Homo sapiens: one gene and its partners. The protein of the gene in region 1 purifies or fractionates together with the protein of each later gene. This does not show direct contact. Each region holds a gene or a part of one and is shown on either strand. Other genes may lie near its edges.

The links.
Region 2: the proteins of CDK20 (region 1) and FKBP8 purify together in Homo sapiens (affinity purification with mass spectrometry; 5 studies listed by BioGRID and IntAct, with this or other methods). This does not show direct contact.
Region 3: the proteins of CDK20 (region 1) and CDC42EP1 purify together in Homo sapiens (affinity purification with mass spectrometry; 2 studies listed by BioGRID and IntAct, with this or other methods). This does not show direct contact.

What each region holds. Positions count from the first base shown.
Region 1 is NC_000009.12:87,965,857-87,971,556, reverse strand, and holds the end of CDK20 (cyclin-dependent kinase 20), read left to right. Parts: intron 1-221; coding exon 222-410; intron 411-659; coding exon 660-781; intron 782-911; coding exon of another isoform or gene 912-926; coding exon 927-989; intron 990-1,637; coding exon 1,638-1,761; coding exon of another isoform or gene 1,762-1,782; exon of another isoform or gene 1,783-1,783; intron 1,784-2,207; coding exon 2,208-2,363; intron 2,364-2,689; exon of another isoform or gene 2,690-2,987; intron 2,988-3,383; coding exon of another isoform or gene 3,384-3,462; intron 3,463-3,884; exon of another isoform or gene 3,885-3,897; coding exon 3,898-4,095; 3' UTR 4,096-5,116; downstream 5,117-5,700. UniProt on the Homo sapiens protein: Required for high-level Shh responses in the developing neural tube.
Region 2 is NC_000019.10:18,540,509-18,547,847, forward strand, and holds the start of FKBP8 (peptidyl-prolyl cis-trans isomerase FKBP8), read right to left. Parts: upstream 3,066-7,339; 5' UTR 2,978-3,065; intron 1,488-2,977; 5' UTR 1,463-1,487; coding exon 1,171-1,462; intron 1-1,170. UniProt on the Homo sapiens protein: Constitutively inactive PPiase, which becomes active when bound to calmodulin and calcium. Seems to act as a chaperone for BCL2, targets it to the mitochondria and modulates its phosphorylation state.
Region 3 is NC_000022.11:37,556,111-37,563,565, forward strand, and holds the start of CDC42EP1 (cdc42 effector protein 1), read left to right. Parts: upstream 1-4,369; 5' UTR 4,370-4,478; intron 4,479-7,455. UniProt on the Homo sapiens protein: Probably involved in the organization of the actin cytoskeleton. Induced membrane extensions in fibroblasts.

The DNA of each region.
Region 1 (5,700 bases):
TGTTCATGGAGAATTAGAGTGGGGGCACACCTTATCTCAGGAGAGCAGAGCAAATCATGAGCATCGAGCTCTCTGATTCTTAGCTCAGGTCCACGTCACCTTCTTTGCTTACTGTCTTTTTGGATACAGGGTCCTCTGTCAGGGCATGGGCTGGGGTCTCAGGGTCACAGAGAGGGTCTGGTGACTTGAGTCTGGGGGCTAACAAGATGTCCTGCCCACAGGTGGTACAACTGAAGGCTGTGTTCCCACACGGTGGAGGCTTTGTGCTGGCCTTTGAGTTCATGCTGTCGGATCTGGCCGAGGTGGTGCGCCATGCCCAGAGGCCACTAGCCCAGGCACAGGTCAAGAGCTACCTGCAGATGCTGCTCAAGGGTGTCGCCTTCTGCCATGCCAACAACATTGTACATCGGGTCAGTCTCAGCATAGGCCGGGCATGGGGTCTGGGGAGCTGACTTGGCTTGGGGATGGGGCTAGCCCTTGTAAAAGGTGTGATAAGAAGTTGGGACAGAGCTGGTCAAGGCCTCCAGGTAAGTGGCCAGGGCATGGCCCTGGAGGAGGTGGGGACCGGGGCTGACCTGAGTGGTTAGACTGCCAAGCCCGCTTGTCCCAAGGTCCTATGGGGGATTTGGAGGGACTGATGCTTCTTTTGGTACTCCCAGGACCTGAAACCTGCCAACCTGCTCATCAGCGCCTCAGGCCAGCTCAAGATAGCGGACTTTGGCCTGGCTCGAGTCTTTTCCCCAGACGGCAGCCGCCTCTACACACACCAGGTGGCCACCAGGTAGGGAGGGCCAGATCCCTTCCAGTCTTCTCCATGGGGAAGAGATGCTTCTGGGCCTTTTCTCCAGACATTGCTTGTGGGGCTGGGGTCACCTCCCCAGGCATCCTTTTCTCAGCCCAGTGCCTGCCAGCCCTCTTCCTCGCAGGTGGTACCGAGCCCCCGAGCTCCTGTATGGTGCCCGCCAGTATGACCAGGGCGTCGATCTGTGGTGAGACCCCTGTGGGTGGTCAAAGGGTAACATGGCTCATGGATTTCTGCTAGGCTCTGAGGTCTCTGAGCTGTTTGGTGGTCTTTTCCCTGGTGGGAGTTTAGGCTTCCTTAAGGGTGTCTTCCCTGGTTGGGGTATTCTGAGCACTTTGGGGTTGGGGTTCCTCACTATGATGTTTTCGAGCTGGGTAGGGGCCAGGTGGGATGAGAATGGTGGTCCCAGGTGGGAAGCTTTCTGGGCTAGATGGGGAGGTGGTCTGAGCCGATATGTGCTGGAGTTAGATCCTAGGATATGGCATCTCTGAGCTGGTCAGAGGCCTGTGTCCTTGGACATGAAAGCTCTGAGCTTGTTTTGCAGCAAGAAGATAGTTGGCAGTGCCCATGGGTCTGAGATTTGGGGCAGGTTTGCAGGTCTGCCCCAGAAGTGTCCTAGAGCAGGAGTCTCCGAGAAGTCTTGGAACAGCTGGGGCTTTGCTCTGGGTTCTAGGGTTGAGGGCTTTGAGGGTTCAGGGACTGGGCCTCTGGACGTGAGGCTCCAGGGCTGGCTTGTGGGGCCTTGCCCTGGAGTGCAGTGTTAGAGCTGCTCTGTGGGTGGGTCTGTGGTCCATGGTGGGAGATCTCTGACCTGCTTGGGGCTCTGTGTCCACAGGTCTGTGGGCTGCATCATGGGGGAGCTGTTGAATGGGTCCCCCCTTTTCCCGGGCAAGAACGATATTGAACAGCTTTGCTATGTGCTTCGCATCTTGGGCACCCCAAACCCTCAAGTCTGGCCGGTTTGTAGGGGCCCTTGGTGAGGTGGGTGTGGGGCAGGTTTACTCCACTCCCAACAGCAAGTAACCACTCCCTCCCCTGAACCTTCTCTCTCCTGGCCCCAACCCCCCTTGATGGACAGGGACCACTGTCCTGGCCCAACTCAGGGCTTCCTCCTTCCTGCTGTCATTTGGGTTGGGGTAGATCCTGTCCTTTGTCCCTTTTCACCCCAGTACACACATGTGCAGTGTCTCAGCAAGCTGTGCACAGAGTCGTCATCTGAGAGGGCAAGGGGATGGATGAAGGAATACAGGGGTGGGTGAGTGAATGAATGATGGGTCAGGGAGACACATGGATGGGAGAGCACCCCCCATGTGAGTGTGTGTTAGGGGCTGAGAGTTGACAGCAGAGAGCATGGCAAGGGTCGGGAACTACTCTCATTGTACCCTGTTCCTTCTCCCTGGCCCAGGAGCTCACTGAGCTGCCGGACTACAACAAGATCTCCTTTAAGGAGCAGGTGCCCATGCCCCTGGAGGAGGTGCTGCCTGACGTCTCTCCCCAGGCATTGGATCTGCTGGGTCAATTCCTTCTCTACCCTCCTCACCAGCGCATCGCAGCTTCCAAGGTAGGGGGAGAGGCTGTAGTCTCTGCTCCTTCAGCTCCCCTCCCCATCACCCTGGTACTCTGTACTTGGTAGCCATGTGACCCCATCACATCAGCGACCCTCAGAACCTGTGATTGGCATGGACCAGCACCAGACATCTGGAACCCAGGGGACAGGGGCCTTGGAGCAGGTGTGCCTCTCATGAGTAGACCCCACTGGACATCCCCAGACTTCCCCTGAGGGTGGCCCATACGAGGGGCATGCCCAACTCTCAGGAGAGCGCGTGTCCGGGAGTGCAGGTTTCTGGGCTGCCCCTGACCCTGTGGCAGATACAGTAAGAGAGTCACTGGGGACTCATTCCTTTATTCCATTAGCAAGTATTTTCTGCACATCTGGCACATGCAGGGATTGTCCTGGGCCCTGCACAGATGGTAAACAATCAGTCCTACCTCCGCGGGGCACTCCTGGTGGTGAGGTAGCTCCAGGTCCAAAAGGTCACAAGAGGTCATGTTCTCCAGCTGTGGGAGCCCCAGGAGAGAGGCAAGGCCGACTTTGGGGTCAAGCAAAGCTTCCTGGTGGAGGGCAGGTTTAAGCATGAGATGTTTGAGGAGGTGTTCGCTGAAGAGAGAAATGGTGGGCAGAGGCCTGGAAGAGAGGACCCAGGAAGGCTGGTTATGGCTGGTAGGCCTGGGAGGACGATGACCACAGGAGCATGGGCTGACAGGTGTCAGGGTGTCTCTCAGGGGTCCCTGTCCCCTCCCTGCACTCAGCACCAGCCGCGTGTGTTTACATACGCCCTCTTGGTCTCCACTGTCAGCAGCTCCTGTGGGCTCTGTGTCCACAGTGTACCCAAGCCGTGTGACCCTTATCTCTTGGGTTGCCTCCCAGAATCTGGGTCTCCCCTCATCCCATTTAATCTCTTCTCCACCTGGCAGACAGAGTAACTTTATCCAAGTAGAACAGGACACATTCCTTCTCTGCCAGGGCCCTCCTGTGGCTCCATCTCAGAGGAAAAGCCAGGGTCCTTTTTGTGACCCACAGATGTCGTATGCTTGGGTGCCATCACCTCATGACGCTGCCTGCTGTTGTGCCCTGTGCTCACTCCTCTCCAGCCCCAGGGGTCAGTACACTTTTGTCCCTGGCCTGGAGCCTCATGTCCCACTTGCTTATGTCTCAAGTCTTGGCTTAAATGTCACTTCTCAGATGGCCTTCCCTCATGACTCTTCAGATCTGCAACCTCTCTCCAGGATTCCTCATTCCTCTGTCTTGCTTTCTCTCTTCCACTGCACTAATCATTATCTGACATACTGTGTATTTTACTTCATCTTGTTTATTACCCCCCACCCTCACTTATGTCAGAAAAACAGAGCTTTTGTCTGTTTTATTAACGGCTATGTTCCCAGCTTCTGGAATAGTGCTTCAGACATAGTAGACACTCAGAAAACACCCAGACACACTGAGTCAGCTGAATGCATAGATGAAGGAACATCTGCTTGAGGCTGGGGACAGGGAGGTGACTAGTTTCCTTCTGCTGTTCCTTACTTGCCACCCTCAGGCTCTCCTCCATCAGTACTTCTTCACAGCTCCCCTGCCTGCCCATCCATCTGAGCTGCCGATTCCTCAGCGTCTAGGGGGACCTGCCCCCAAGGCCCATCCAGGGCCCCCCCACATCCATGACTTCCACGTGGACCGGCCTCTTGAGGAGTCGCTGTTGAACCCAGAGCTGATTCGGCCCTTCATCCTGGAGGGGTGAGAAGTTGGCCCTGGTCCCGTCTGCCTGCTCCTCAGGACCACTCAGTCCACCTGTTCCTCTGCCACCTGCCTGGCTTCACCCTCCAAGGCCTCCCCATGGCCACAGTGGGCCCACACCACACCCTGCCCCTTAGCCCTTGCGAGGGTTGGTCTCGAGGCAGAGGTCATGTTCCCAGCCAAGAGTATGAGAACATCCAGTCGAGCAGAGGAGATTCATGGCCTGTGCTCGGTGAGCCTTACCTTCTGTGTGCTACTGACGTACCCATCAGGACAGTGAGCTCTGCTGCCAGTCAAGGCCTGCATATGCAGAATGACGATGCCTGCCTTGGTGCTGCTTCCCCGAGTGCTGCCTCCTGGTCAAGGAGAAGTGCAGAGAGTAAGGTGTCCTTATGTTGGAAACTCAAGTGGAAGGAAGATTTGGTTTGGTTTTATTCTCAGAGCCATTAAACACTAGTTCAGTATGTGAGATATAGATTCTAAAAACCTCAGGTGGCTCTGCCTTATGTCTGTTCCTCCTTCATTTCTCTCAAGGGAAATGGCTAAGGTGGCATTGTCTCATGGCTCTCGTTTTTGGGGTCATGGGGAGGGTAGCACCAGGCATAGCCACTTTTGCCCTGAGGGACTCCTGTGTACTTCACATCACTGAGCACTCATTTAGAAGTGAGGGAGACAGAAGTCTAGGCCCAGGGATGGCTCCAGTTGGGGATCCAGCAGGAGACCCTCTGCACATGAGGCTGGTTTACCAACATCTACTCCCTCAGGATGAGCGTGAGCCAGAAGCAGCTGTGTATTTAAGGAAACAAGCGTTCCTGGAATTAATTTATAAATTTAATAAATCCCAATATAATCCCAGCTAGTGCTTTTTCCTTATTATAATTTGATAAGGTGATTATAAAAGATACATGGAAGGAAGTGGAACCAGATGCAGAAGAGGAAATGATGGAAGGACTTACGGTATCAGATACCAATATTTAAAAGTTTGTATAATAATAAAGAGTATGATTGTGGTTCAAGGATAAAAACAGACTAGAGAAACTTATTCTTAGCCATCCTTTATTTTTATTTTATTTATTTTTTGATGGAGTCTTGCTCTGTTGCCCAGGCTGGAGTGCAGTGGCACAATCTCGGCTTACTGCAACCTCCGCCTCCTGGGTTCAAGTGATTCTCCTGCCTCAGCTTCCCGAGTAGCTGGGACTACAGGCGCGTGCCACCACACCTGGCTAATTTTTGTATTTTTACTCAAGACAGGGTTTCACCATGTTAGCCAGGATGGTCTTGATCTCCTGACCTCGTGATCTGCCTGCCCGGGCCTCTCAAAGTGCTGGGATTGTAGGCGTGAGCCACCATGCCCAGCCCCAGGCTCCCTTTATTTTTAAAATGTTTATTTTATGCTTCATGTGGATAAACTCTTCTGTGAGCACTCAGGGTGACTAACACTGCTACAGATGCTGGCCTTCAAGCACTTAGTGGAGAGAGAAAACATACTCAACCCTCGTTCTTGGCTTTCAGGAAAGTCTGATGTTTTCATGATATGGCCTCTGTTTATTTCTCCAGCCACATCTTCTGCAGACTGTAAGCTTCTAAGAGAACTTCAAAGAGAACTCTA
Region 2 (7,339 bases), on another chromosome or scaffold:
GGATCACTTGAGGTTAGGAGTTTGAGACCAGCCTGGTCAACATGGTGAGACCCTGTCTCCACTAAAAATACAAAAATTAGGGGCCAGGTGTGCTGGCTCACACCTGTAATCTCAGCACTTTAGGAGGCCAAGGCAGGTGGATCACCTGAGGTCAGGAGTTCGAGACCAGCCTGGCCAATGTGGTGAAACCCTGTCTCTACTAAAAATACAAAAATCAGCCAGGCATAGAGGTGGGCACCTGTAGTCCCAGCTACTCAGGAGGCTGAGGCAGAAGAATCGCTTGAACCTGGGAGGCGGAGGTTGCAGTGAACTGAGATCGCACCACTGCATTCCAACCTGGGTGACAGAGTCAGACTCTGTCTCAAAAAAAAAAAAAAAAGTAGTAAGATTTTTATCAGTAGTGGTGGTGATATTTAGTAATATTTCTGTTCCATCAGTGTCAATATGATTGGAAACTATTGCTACAGTATTGTTATTACAATTGATAGTGGTAATGATATCTTATTATTTGCATGGGCACCAGCATTATTTGGTATATTAGATATCAGTACTATACTAGTAGCAAGACGTCTTCCACAGAAAACTAACATTTCTCTTGTTTTCAGTTGCTGTGATGGGGTATGTTGGGGGGAACATGTGGGGGCTCATGTAGTTTTCTTCTTGTAGGATTGCTCTGAGCATTTACAATACTATCACTACTGTGAACCAACCAGAAGGCTGAACAAAATAACATTCCTCTGATCCACTTGACCCCAGAACACATTTTTTGTTTTGGAAGTTGGGGTCTCGCTGTGTTGCCCAGGCTGGCGTGCACTCAGGACACATTTTTCAGAGCCCAAGCATGTGTCAGACAAATGCCAAAAAAAGATGCATTGATGGGGTTAGGAGCTGCCAGCGCCTGGCGTGCTGGCTGTGTGGCTCTGGGCAGGTGACTCAGCCTCTCTGAGCCACTGTTAGCAGATCTGGGAAACGGGGACACAGCACATTGTGCATGTGTGTGAGTCAGTGGATAGAGTACATCAATGTGAAGCATCTCCAGTAGTTGCCTCTGGCTGGTGATCACGGTGGTGACCACGTGACTTCCAACCCTCACAGCACAGATGGGGAAATGAGGCTCAGGGGACGAGAGGGCCAGGGCCAAGGGCACCCTGATCCACCTTTGCTCCTTACCCAGAATGTCCAGCCACTCTTCTGGGGCCGGGGCTGGGGCGGGCTCGGGCTCCATGGCAGCAAGGAACTCTCGGGCCAGGGCCCCAGGCTGCTCAGCCTCCTCCGCCGGGGGTTGTCCCATGTCCTCCAGCGGTGGCAGCTCACTCAGGTCATCCTCTTCCTCCTCTTCCTCCTCCTCTTCCTCCTCACCCTCTGCATCCTCAACCCCATCCAGTACCTCGAAGTCCTCGAGCGGTGGGACCCCGGCGGGCAGTGGGGCAGAGGGCTCAGAGGGTTCAGCACACGATGCCATGCTGCTGGGGGGACAGGAATTGGCCCTGGAAGTGGGGGGCAGAGATGTGGGTCAGAATCCTACACAGCCCCTCAAAGTCTCCACTGTACTGATTCCCCACACTGCCGATCACTTTCTGTGTAACTCAAGGGCTCCAGGCCTCAGTTTCCTCATCTATACAGTGGGTGTAACAACAACCCCAGCTTGTTGGGAGAAATTAACCCATGCATCAAGCCCTTGGCATCAGGCTCAAATAGTGTTAGCCATTATTAGAGCTAATTATTATTTAATGTTTACAAATACTCCAGGAAGTAGGGAAGATTCCCCTCAACATTTTGCAGAACAGGAAACAGGCCAGAGGGGCAAAGGCATTTGCCCAAGGTCACAGAGAAAGCCAAAGGCCAAAGGAGGATTTGAACCTGGGGCTTCAGGCCCTGTGGCTTTGCCTGATTATAAGCTGAGCGAAGGGTGCTGGGATTTTTGTGGAGAGGACAGCCTCCGAGGCCTTAGGGAAGCCATTTTTAGAGCCTCTAAGGCCACTGGGGGAAATTGAATCTTTTACCAGGGCCTCCCACCTCCAGCCTCTTCTCCAAAGGGGAGACCCTCCCCAAAAGCACCAACTGTAATCACCCAGAAACCCCAAGCGTTTTTTCCTTCCACACTCTGAATCTAACACTATCCCCCACAACCCCAACATCAGGGACCCTGGCCCAAATCCTTCCCCAGGAGACCATCCTCCTCTCATCAGGCCTCGGTCCCACCCCCTCAAAGCAGCCTCCTTTCCAGGAGTGGTCGAGGTCCCACCACATTCTACAGCCTCTTCCTTGCCCCAGACCTCCTGAACCAATAACCAACCCCTCCGTCCCCCAGGCCCCAAGCTCAGAAGAGTGTGGCACAGCCATCAAACCAGCCCGCCGCATCCCCTCCCTAACCCTCACCTGCCTGCTCCTCCCGGGCTCGGAGCCCCACTTTGAGAGACCCTCCCAGCCCCCACCCCCATAATTCCCCGCGCCCGCACAATTCGGCCTCCCCTCCCACCCCCCACCCCAACCACCACCGCCCCCAGCACGGGCCAGCTCCCCCCACAGCCGCTCCGTCTCGCCGTAAACACTCCAGTGTCCCCAGACGCCCCCCCCTTTCCGATCCCATAACACCCCACGCTCTCCTGACGCCCCACAGCCCCGGCCGGGCCCTCAGTCAAGCCGCGACCCAGGCCCCCAACGACCCACGCCTGTCTGACGCCACCAGTCTGGGGCACCCGACCCCCGCACGCCTCGGGCGCCCCTGGCCCTGCACGCCTCCATCGGGACCCCCCCACTGGATCCCCTTTGCCCCCAGTGACCCCCATCCCTGGCCACCCCCGCCCGGCCGCGCCCCCTCGGGCACCCCCGACCCCCGTGCCCCCCCGGCTCGCCACCCCCGCGGCCCCTCGCCCCGCCCATCGGCCGCAGCCCCCGGCGCGCTAGCCCCCGGACCAGCCTAGGCCAGGGCAGCGGCCCGGCCGGCACGGCGCCCCCAGCACCCCAGGACACTTGCCTCTGGCTCCGGGACCCCCACTTGGGGTCCTGCGCCCCCCTCCCCGCCCCCAGCCGCGGCCGCCGCGCCTCGGGAACCAGGTTCGGCCGCTTGGCCCCGCCCCTGCCGTGCCCATTGGCCGCCGCTGCCGCGACTGCCGCACCCGTTGGCTCATGCAGACGTCCGTCCCGGGCGTTGGCACCTCCCCCTTCCTGCTTGGCCCCGCGGGGCGTTCTTAAAGGGACCGAAGCCTCCCGGCTGCTGGGGCTGGGGCGGGGGCTGGGGCGGGGGCTGGGGCGGGGGCTGGGGCGGGGGCGGGGGACCCTGGGCTGGACCCCAACACGGGTCAGTATCGCGCAGCCTGTGCGACTCCTGCCTCTCCTCTGAGCTTCATCCTGACCATCTGCGAAATGGGGATAAACACCCCCATCTATGCACTCTCACCTTGGGGGCTGCTGGGGGCACAGTCCACTCTAAATGTTATTTCCTTAAAGAGTTCAAGCTTGACGGGCAGGGCAGCTCTGGGGTTGCTGAATGACCCATCCTGAAGCCTTAGTTACAGAAGTGAACCTGAGGGCCTGAGGAGGAGTGACGTGCCCAAAGGCATACAGAAACCTCCCTCCCATCCCCCACACAGTTTAATGTCTAGAAGGTTGCCTGGTGCATACTGGAGGCGCTCGATTACTGCTGCGCAGGCGACTGAGCCAGCAGGGCCACTGGGAGGAGTTCCTCCTCTATGCACTGTCTGCTGGAGGGTGATAAGGTCCCCATGGCTCGGGAAGAAGGTGGCATCCTTGATTAGCTAAGTTTTTGTGGATCTTGTTTTGAAACCGGGACACTTCTCCCTCCTTCACTCAGTTTTATTTCCTTCCTAGCAGTTACTCCTTCCAGAATTATCTTGTCATTATTTTGCTTGTGGTTGGAGGGACCATCCCTCACTCTGCTTCATCCTGGCAGAGATTTTTACCTGATTTGTACCCAGCACCTCCTTGAACCATGCCTGGCATCTATAGAAGCTCAATAAATGGGTAGGTGGATGGATGGATGGATGGATGGATGGATGGATGGATGGATGAGTCAGACACCAGCTTTTGGAGGTAGCTATCATGGAGGTGGTAACTGGCTTTTTGGAGATCACTTCTAAGGTTGGAGTTCCCAGGTTACCTCCTACAGGAAGCCCTCCCAACCTCCCCAAGGCAAGACCAGGTGCCCCCTTTAGCTGTCTTGGCACAATGAAGTTGATGAACGTCCACTTCATAACTAGTTTACTTGGGTTTTTTGTTTGTTTGTTTGTTTTTGTTTTTTGAGAAGAAGTTTCACTCTTGTTGCCCAAGCTGGAGTGCAATGGCGCAATCTCAGCTCACCGCAACCGCTGCCTCCCAGGTTCAAGCGATTCTCCTGCCTCAGCCTTCCAAGTAGCTGGGAGTAGAGGCATGCACCACCATGCCTGGCTAACTTTGTATTTTTAGTAGACACGGGATTTCTTCATGTTGGTCAGGCTGGTCTCAAACTCCCGACCTCACGTGATCCGCCCACCTCGATGTACCAAAGATTACAGGCATGAGCCATCGTGCCTGGCCTTTTTTTTTTTTTTCTTTCTCTTTTTTTTTTGAGACAGAGTCTCTCTCTGTCGCCAGGCTGGAGTGCAGTGGCGCGATCTCGGCTCACTGCAACATCCACCTCCTAAGTTCCAACGATTCTCCTGCTTCAGCCTCCTGAGTAGCTGGGACTACAGGCACCCGCCACCATGCCCAGCTAATTTGTATATTTTTAGTAGAGACAGGGTTTCACCATGTTGGCCAGGATGGTCTGGAACTCCTGACCTCATGATCTGCCTGCCTCGGCTTCCCAAACTAGTTTACTTATATCTCTGCCTTTTTTTTTTTGAGATAGGGTCTTACTTTGAAACCCAGGCTGGAGTGCAGTGGCACGATCTCAGATCACTGCAACCATGTCTATCTCCTGGGCTCACGCAATCCTCCTGCCTCAGCCTCCTGAGTAGCTGGGCCCACAGGTGCACCATCATGTCCAGCTAATTTTTTTTTTTTTTTTTGAGACAGAGTCTCGCTGTGTAGCCCAGGCTAGAGTGCAGTGGCGCAATCTCGGCTCACTGCAAGCTCCGCCTCCCAGGTTCACACCATTCTCCTGCCTCAGCCTCCCAAGTAGCTGGGACTACAGGCGCCTGCCACCATGCCCGACTAATTTTTTGTATTTTTAGTAGAGTCAGCGTTTCATCGTGTTAGCCAGGATAGTCTCGATCTCCTGACCTTGTGATCTGCCCACCTCGGCCTCCCAAAGTGCTGAAATTACAGGCGTGAGCCATCGCGCCCGGCCCAATGTTTATATTTTTTGTAGAGATGGGGTTTCCCCATGTTGCCCAGGCTGGTCTCGAACTCCTGGGCTCAAGCAATCCTCCCACTTTGGCCTCCCAAACTGTTGGGATTATAGGCGTGAGCCACTGCTTTGATTTACCTCTGCCTTGCCCTCTACACTGGCAGAGCCCCAAAGTCTGGGAAGGCTTTGTTCTTTCTCATTGTTATAGCTCTGAGGCTTGCACAGTGCCTGCCACAAAAGGTAGTGGTGGGGTCTCACGGAAATCACTGAGGAAGGAAGGGAGGTTAAAGGTGGTAGCATAGCAGAGCTATGTAAGAAATCACCTGGAGGGCTGGGTGCGGTGGCTTATGCCAGTAATCCCAGCACTTTGGGAGGCCGAGGTGGGTGGATCACCTGAGGTCAGGAAATCTAGACCAGCCTGGCCAACATGGTGAAACCCCGTCTCTACTAAAAATACAAAAATTAGCCGGGTATGGTGGTGCATGCCTGTAATCTCAGATACTGGGGTGGCTGAGGCATGAGGACTGCTTGAACCCCAGGGGTGGAAGTTGCAGTGAGCAAGACCCAGTCTCAAAAACAGCCTTTGGGAGGCTGAGGCAGATGGTTCACCTGAAGTCAAGAGTTCGAGACCAGCCTGGCCAACATGGTGAAACCTGTCTCTGCGAAAAATACAGAAATTAGCCGGGTGCGGTGGCACATGCCTGTAATCCCAGCTACTTGGGAGGTTGAGGCAGGAGAATCGCTTGAACCCGGGAGGCAGATGTTGCAGCGAGCCAAGATCACGTCACCGTACTCCAGCCTGGGCAACCTAAGCCTGGGTAACGTAGTGAGAGCCTGCCTCTACAGAATATTAATTAATTAATTTGGAGACACAGTCTCCCTCTGTCTCCCACGTAGAGTGCAGTGGAACGATCTGGGCTCACTGCAACCTCTGACTCCCAGGTTCAAGCGATTCTCCTGCCTCAGCCTCCTAAGTAGCTGGGATTACAGGCGCCTGCCATGACACATGACTAATTTTTTTTTTGAGACAGAGTCTAGTGAGGCTGGAGTGCAATGGTGTGATCTCGGCTCACTGCAACCTCTGCCTCCCAGGTTGAAGCAATTCTCCTGCCTCAGCCTTCCTAGTAGCTGGGATTACAGGCGCCTGCCACCATGCCTGCCTAATTTTTTGTATTTTTAGTAGAGATGGGGGGGTTCCGCTATGTTGGCCAGGCTGGTCTTGAACTTCTGACCTTGTGATCCACCTGCCTTGGCCTCCCAAAGTGCTGGGATTACAGGCATGAGCCGTCACACCTGGCCTCTACAGAAAATTTAAAAATGTAGTCCCAGCTAAATGGGAGGCTGAGGTGGGAGGGATCCCTTGAACCCAGGAGGTCGAGGCTACAGTGAGTTATGATCAAAGTTCTGCACTGCAGCCTGAGCAACAAGGCAAGACGCTGTTTCTAAAATAATAGTAATAATTATTATTATAAATTAATAAGCTACTAAAATAAACTATAAAATAACACCACCAACAATAATAATAATGGCTGGCACTCATTGAACAGATATTTGCAGGCAAACATTTTACTTATATTTGCTTTTCCCTTTTTTTTTTTTTTGGGACAGAATCTCGCTCTGTCGCCCAGGCCGGAGTGCAGTGGCACGATCTCGGCTCACTGCCACCTCTGCCTCCCAAGTTCAAGCAATTCTCCTGTCTCAGCCTCTGGAGTAGCTGGGACTACAGGCACCAGCCACCAAGCCTGGCTAATTTTTGCATTTCTCGTGGAGACGGGGTTTCACTGTATTGGTCAGGCTGGTCTCAAACTCTTGACCTCGATCTCAAAAACAAAACAAAACAAAACAAAAACAAAAAAACAAGACTGCTCTACTTGGAGGCCATATCATTGGCTGCATGTAGAGTTGCAATTGTGTTTCCTGGTGAACTGAACCTTTTTTTTTTTGAGATGGAGTCTCAATCTGTCGCCTAGGCTGGAGTGCAGTGGCAAGATCTCAGATCACTGCAGCCTCTGCCCCTTGGGTTCAAGTGATTCTCCTGCCTCACCCTCC
Region 3 (7,455 bases), on another chromosome or scaffold:
TACAGGATGGAAGTGGAAGGAGTAGATGGACAGGTGGGTGAGTAGATGGCCACGGGTGTGGGCAGTGGATCAAACAATGCTGGGTAGAGTGGGTGGGTGGGTGTACAGGTAGGTAAATGGATGATGGGGTGGAAGGATGCATGGGTGTGTAGGCGGCTGGATGGGTGCATAAGTGGATGGATGGATGAATGGGGGATAGGCAATGGGTCAATGGAAGGGTGGGTAAGTAAGTGGTTGAGTGATTGGATGTATGTGAGTAGCAGATCAAGACATGGACAGGAAGTAGGTGGGTAAATGGGTGCATGGAAGGGAGGGCAGATGGATGGACAGGGGAGTGGGCAGTGGGTAGATGGATGAATTAGCGATCGCATCGACAGATGGATGGACCAGTGGACACTCAAGAGCTGGAGAACGGGAAAGACCAATCAGTGGTCAATGAGCAGATGCATTAACTGACCAAAAGCCCAGCCAGACTTTGGGGTACAAAGGGGACATGCACCCTAGGGAGGGGCTGATAGTTGTGGCCTCAGTTGAAGGCTCCCATCCCAAACCTCCCTGGAACCTGGAAGCAGCCACTGGCATTCCTGGGTCCCCAAGGAGGAAATACTTCTCCGTAGCTCTGCCCTGCCCCCTCCTCCCTGGCTCCATAGACTGCTCCCTGCCCAGGACCTGCCTCCTTCCCTTAGGCCCCTTGCCTTGGCCAACCCAATCTGCTGGGCTGAGTGGAGGGGGCAGCTGAGCCCTGGGACTATAGCCTGAGGAGCCTGGTTCCTTCAAGACAGGGAGGTAGGGGATCCTGAGCTCTGGGCGGTTGGTTCACCTAGCAGCTCCCCGTCCCCAGCTGGGAGGCATTTGTTCTGCATTCTGCACGATGATTACAGCCCTGCCAAGGTTAACCCCTGCACTCCTGGGCACAGCCTCTCAAAGGGAAGGAAGGGGACCGCAGGAAATTGGGGGAGGAGAAAAGCATGATAAAGGGAGACTGCCCAACCCTGGATCCTTCTTGGGGATATTGAAACTTCTCCCTTTCTCCCGTTTTCCAGAGGGAAAAACTGAGTCAGATCCTTAAATCAGGAGTGGAGCCAGGAACAAGGGCACAGCCTACATGGAGATAGGTTTCTATCTGGAGGCAGGCTGCAAAGGAGGGAGAGGGCTCCTCTCTGCCTCAGCTTACCCAGATGTAAAAGGGGGCAAGAATTCCTGATTCACAGGTTGCCTGTCAATGAGCTGGAGAAGACAAAGCGTGTGGCATATATAGTAGGGAGGTTCTCAACCTCTTGTTCTTTCCTGCCTGCCCTCCCTGCCCGCGGGTGAAGAAGATGGAGCAAGCATGGGGCAGGTTGTAACCACTTCCATCAGGACTGCTTGCTCAGTCATCTGCCTGGGGCTCACAACACCCCAACTAGTAAATACCCACACTGCTATTATACCCATTTCAGAGATGAGAAACTTGAGGCTCAAATGGGCCAAGTGCTTTGCCCACGGTCAGCCACTGGGCCAGGATTTGAGCTCAGGGCCTTTGACATTGCACCAGACTGCCTCCTTTACCAGCCGCTCTAGGGATCCTCTGACTAGAGTGACGTGTAATTGATTGTCTAACCAGGTCACCTTTGAGAATGAAAGGAAGTGCTATTAATAATTACACTGGAACAGTATGTGTAATCTGGGCTGTCCTAGGCAAACTGGAAAGTATGGCCATCCTGCCAAAGTAGGGAGCTTTACGCAAATCACTTCACTTATCTGCAAAAGGGACACCATGGCAGGACTTTCCCTATGGGGCTCTCACAAGAATTAAATGTCATAATGCATGTTAATGAGCTACAGGACCTGGTATGCATCAGGTGCTCAATAAGTGCTGGTTACTACTGATGCTATTAATAGTAATAACCACAGTAGCACTAGTTCTTTGTTTCCATCACTGTCCTTCCAGTCCATTCTTCACTCACAGTCAGATTTCTATTTTGTTTTTTGTTTTTTTGAGATGGGGTCTCGCTCTGTCGCCCAGGCTGGAGTGCAGTAGCACGATCTCAGCTCACTGTAACCTCCGTCTCCCAGATTCAAGCAATTCTCCTGCCTCTGCCTCCTGAATAGCTGGGATTACAGGCGCCCACCACTATGCCCGGCTAATTTTTGGTATTTTTAGTAGAGACAGGATTTCACCATGTTGGCCAAGCTGGTCACGAACTCCTGACCTCAAGTGATCTGCTCGCCTCGGCCTCCCAAAGTGCTGGGATTACAAGTGTGAGCCACCGCGCCCGGCACTTTTTTATTTTTATTTTTTAAGATGGAGTCTCGCTCTGTTGACCAGGCTGGAGTGCCGTGGTGCGATCTCAGCTCACTGCAACCTCCGCTTCCCAGGTTCAAGCAATTCTCCCTGCCTCAGCCTCCCGAGTAGCTGGGATTACAGGCACCCGCCACCACGCCTGGCTAATTTTTGTATTTTTAGTTGAGACGGAGTTTTACCATATTGGTCAGGCTGGTCTCAAACTCCCAGCCTCAAGTAATCTGCCCACCTCAGCCTCCCAAAGTGCTGGGATTACAGGCGTGAGCAACCACGCCGGGCAACAGTCAGTCTTCTAAATGTACACCTGCCAGTGCTGCCTGCTGGCTCACTGTCCTGATGCTGTTCCAGTTCTCCATGGGACAAAATACTCCTGGGCCGGCCCCCAGGGAAAGAGTTCCTACTGCTGTGCCACTTGAGCAAATGCTAGAATGCTTTGTGCCTCTGTTTCCTCATTTGTCCAGCTGCAGAAATAGCTCCTTCCCTTGGTGGCCAGCATGGGGATTCAGGGAGCCAGTGGAAGAGGCCTAGCCCCTGGGTGAACAGTAAAGACCTTGTCTCCTCCACCTGCGGGTAAATACAGCTCCTCATCCCCGGCCACAACAGCGCTCAGCCAGTCTCCTTCAGCCGGGTTTGCCTCCGCTGCAGGGTCCTCCACTCCCAGCCTTTGCTGTGCTGTCCCTTGCCAGCTGTGCACTGTGCATTTCCACTGCCCTTCCCTCTGCCTACACGTCCTTTAAGACTTAACTCACAACCATGCAGTGGCTCACACCCATAATCCTAGCACTTGAGGAGGCCAAGGCAGGCGGATCACCTGAGGTAAGGAGTTCAAGACCAGCCTGGCCAACATGGTGAAGCCCCCTCTCTACTAAAAAATACAAAAATTAGCCGGGCGTGGGTGGGTGCCTGTAATCCCAGCTAGTCCGGAGGCTTAGGAGGGAGAATCGCTTGAACCCGGGAGGTGGAAGCTGCAGTGAGCTGAGATCATGCCATGGCACTCCAGCCTGAGCAACAGAGAGAGACTCCGTCTCAAAAAAAAAAAAAAAAAAAAAAAAAAAAAAAAAAAAAAAAAAAAGAGAGAGAGAGAGACTTAACTCAGGTATCATCTCCTCTAGGAAGATTTCCTGAGCCCCCAGGCCCTGCAGGAAGTATTAGGGACCTCTCTGTGCCCTGACAGCCCGAGGACTCTATAGTCAGATGGGAGTAGTCAAAGGAGGGCACAACAACGGGAGGCAGGGGCCAGAGATCTATCTCCCCTCCTTGAGGATGGCACAGGGTCCCGGGTATGGCTGATTCCCTGCCCTCCATGGAGGTGGGCGGGGTGGGGGGAGGGTCTGTAAAGTCTCTGAGATGCGACTTCATTTACCTGCCGAGCAAGCCTCCTAGGTGCTCTTGGAGCAGGAAACACTTCACACAACATCTGATGCTGCTATTATCTATCCCACTTTCAGATCAGGAAACTGAGGCAGAGAAAGGTAAGTAGTGACTGAGGCAGGACAGGAGCCCAGGCTGTCCGGCTCCAGGGTCCCGGTCTTGACGGCCACTCTACCCCACTCTACCAGTCGCCCCAGTATGGCTGTCTTCCTCCTGGGCACCGCGGGGCCTGTACCGGATGGAAGGGAATGAGAATGGGGAGCAAAGGAGTGGGCATGTCATGCCTGTAAACATCAAGGTTTAAAGGCCCAGGCATTCAAGGCCTCAGATCGAGCTTCCCGGTTCCCCGAACTCCCGCAGGGCGCGGCTGGAGGGCCCAGGAGGGAGGAGAGTTCATCAGGCCTGGACGCCCCAAGCAAGGCCACGAGGGGAACCGGTGGAAGAGGGGTTGGCGGCCGGGGACCGGAGTCGCCTCCCCGGGGCAGCCCGCACGTTCCCCGGCTGGCCTTGTCCGGGGTGGCGAGCAGAGGCCTGGCCTGGCCCCCCAGCCGCGTCCCTGCCAGCTCTCGGCGGCCGCGAGGACGGTGCCGGGGAGGGGGCCGGGGAGGGGGCCGGGCCCCGCCCGCGGGCGGGAGGAGACGGGCGGGAGGCGGGAGCGCCCACACCCCGCCCCCGCCCCCGGATCCAGCCCGCGGAGCCCGCGGCCAGGGCGGCGCAGACCGGCCCAGCGACTCTCCCGGGCTGCCAGCCGGGACGCGCGGCCGCCGCCGCTGCAGACGACGAGTCCGCCCTCGTCCCGCGCCCCCGGGGCTCGCGGAGCCAGGTAACAGCCCGGGCGCGCGGGTCCTCGGGGCGGAGGCCGTGGAGGCCGGCGGGTCCCGGCGCCCGCGGGGACTCTGCACCCTACTAGGCTCCCGGGGCCGGAACGGGGACGGGACCCGCCCGGGAGAGGCGCCCCCGGGTGCCCACAGGAAGGCCGGGCGCGGCCGCGGAGCCGCGCGAGGAAACTCCGAGCTTTCGGGCTTCGTGTCCCGTTCCAGGCTGGTGGAGGGGGCAGAGGATCGGACACGGCTGAGCGGCCAAAATGCGCGAGGAGGGGGCGAGCCGAGGGGCAGAGCGGGGGCTGTCTCCGCGCCTTCCTGCGCGGGGGAAGGAAGGGCCGGGGCGGGCAGCGGGCGACGCGGCGGAATGTCTCCCCTCCGCCGAGGCCCACGCGGAGAGCGGGAAGTGGGGGGTGGGGGGCCCGGGGAGATGGACAGGCACCCTGCCCCCCTCCCCGACCGCCGCATTCCAGGCTGGAGCCGCGGATGAGGTCATCCCGTCCGGTTCCCCTCCGGCCAAGACAGCCGGTCGTCCCCTTCCCCCGCGGAGCGACCCTCCGCGTCCTGAGCCCCGTCCCCCCAGGGAATGTTGGATGGCCGAAGTCTTTCCCGGACTTCCAATCCCGGCCGCCCTCCAGATTGTTCTGCCTTTGCCCCAGCAGTGCCAGACCCGCAACATTCGAAGCCCTTTTCCTAGACCGGGAAACTGAGGCTTAGAGAGTAGGGGGGACTGGCCGGGAGGCCGCAGCGGCACTAAACGTGGCGCGGGGACCCGAGACGCGGCCCGCAGCCGCTCCGTCTCGCTCGGTCCCGGGCTGGTTCGGCTCTAACTCGGGGCGGTGGGCACGAAGCGCGTCTCCTTTCCACTTTCCCCGTCGCTCCCTAATGGCCCACGGTGCCCCCCTTGGAATACGGAGGACCGGGTCCCCTAGCGCGACTGCGAACAACTAGCTACCCCGTTCTGGCCTCAGTTTCCCCGTCTCTCCACCTTGAAGCGTCTGGACTTTGAGGAGCAGGAGAAGTCAGCCGACCGGTTTAACCCCTTATTCCAGGGACCAGAGCAGGTTTGGGGGAGCTGCCGTAACCATGACAGGGACCCGCTGTCCAGCGGTGGGGGGGGGCGTCACCCAGCTGGATGCCCGCAGGAAGTGGGCTGTGTGCACCCGAGCAGTGGCCTCCAGGATGAGACGTGGGCCCCTGGCCAGCACTGCGGCCTGCGGGTGACCCCCAGGTGAATGCCAGGGTGCAGCCGCCCCCGCTCTCCTTCAGACCCGCCCTTGGCCTCCCCGCGACCACATGTGCCTCCACAGCGACCCCTGTTGGCCCGATCCCGGCTCCAAAACTTGTTCTTGCGTCATTCCCACCATTGAGTGAGCTCAGGCCATGTGCCCAGGCCCTGACTATCCTCTATAGGGTAAATATAAGGACTCCAAGGACACTGAGGCTGTGTGGTGACCTCCTTGCCCAGGTCACAGGCAGTGAATCTGCAGAGCTGGGTCTCCTGTCTTCCCAGGCCTGCACCTGCACCCCACACCGGGCTCAGCACTGGGCATCCAAGCCCTCCAAATCGTCTTCCCCATTCCCCATCGTCTTCACCCCCACCCTGGGGCATTTACCAGCAATGTTGGTCTGTGACTGAGGGTAAATGTCTCCTTTCTGAGCTTCGTTTTTTCCATCTGTGAAAGGGGTGTTCTGAACACTAACGGGCGGTGTTCCTGAGCAGGTGAGGGGAGGTGAGCCTGGCACCAGGACACTTGGAGCCCTGCTTACTCCAGTGCCAGGTGAGGCACACCTGATGGCCAGCAGTGCCCTGTGGTTGGCAGCAAGTGCCACGTGGCTGCCACCGGGGTCCCTGGAATGAGAGATGTTAGTGTAAAGGTGTCAGATTTGAACCCATGGCTGCCCTGCTCCAGTATCTGAGGGTTTCATTACATTTTCTACCCTTGCAACTCCCCTGGGAGGGGAACTGCCTGGTGTGCTGTTCCGTTTTCCACATGGGAAGACCGGGTCCCAATACCCTGCCCTCAGCTCCACAGCGCTGCAGAGTCTCTCGACCGCAGTAGGCAGGGTAGTGTGAGGGGTGGGTACTATTGGGGGGGTGCCCAGAAACATTTGAAAGATGGGATCATCGCAAGATTGGGGAGGAAGCTGGTCCCCCAAGTCAAAAGTGACCATGGGGGTTCAGGGGGGAGGAGCCCCTTTTGCTGGGAGATGAGGTGCTGCCTCAAGAAGTCAGGGAGGCCAGGTGTGGTGGTTCACACTTGTAATCCCAGCACTTTGGGAGGCTGAGGCAGCAGGATGGCTTGAGTTCAGGAATTTGAGACCAACCTGGGCAATGGAGTGAGACCCTGTCCTTACAAAAAGTGGAAAAACTTAGCTGAGCATGGTGGTATGTGCCTGTAGTCCCAGCTACTCAGGAGGCTGAGGTGGGAGGATCGCTTGAGCCTGGGAGTTCGAGGCTGCAGTTAGCTGTGATGGAGCCACTGCACTCAGCCTGGGTGACAGAGTGAGACCCTGCCTCAAAAAAGAAAAAAAAAAAAGTCAGGGAGCTGGGGTGGGAGCAAGTGGGTAAGGCCACATGGCAGACCCTTCTACAGGACATTGTACAGAGGAACACCCTTCCCGCTCCCATTCCTTCCCCCAGAGATGCATCCTTAATCCCTGCTGAGCAGGGAAACTTGGCCCTGCCATGAACCTGTCACTTAACCTTGGACAGGTCTCCCTTCCCTCCGAACCTCAGTGCTGCCTGTCAAATAGGCCACGCTGCGGCTTTGCAGGGTTGTTGGAGAATCAGATGACATCATGTAATGGTTGGCCAACTGTGGATCGCTTCAGAACTTCAGCAAACATTCCACGAGGACTTCTCGGTGCCGGGGGTGCCAGGGAGGGAAGAAGATGATTCAGAAGTTCCCCCCCACGAGGGGGAGGAGTTAGGGTTGGGGGAGGATCAGATGGTGGGAAGGGAAGAGAATGTAGTCA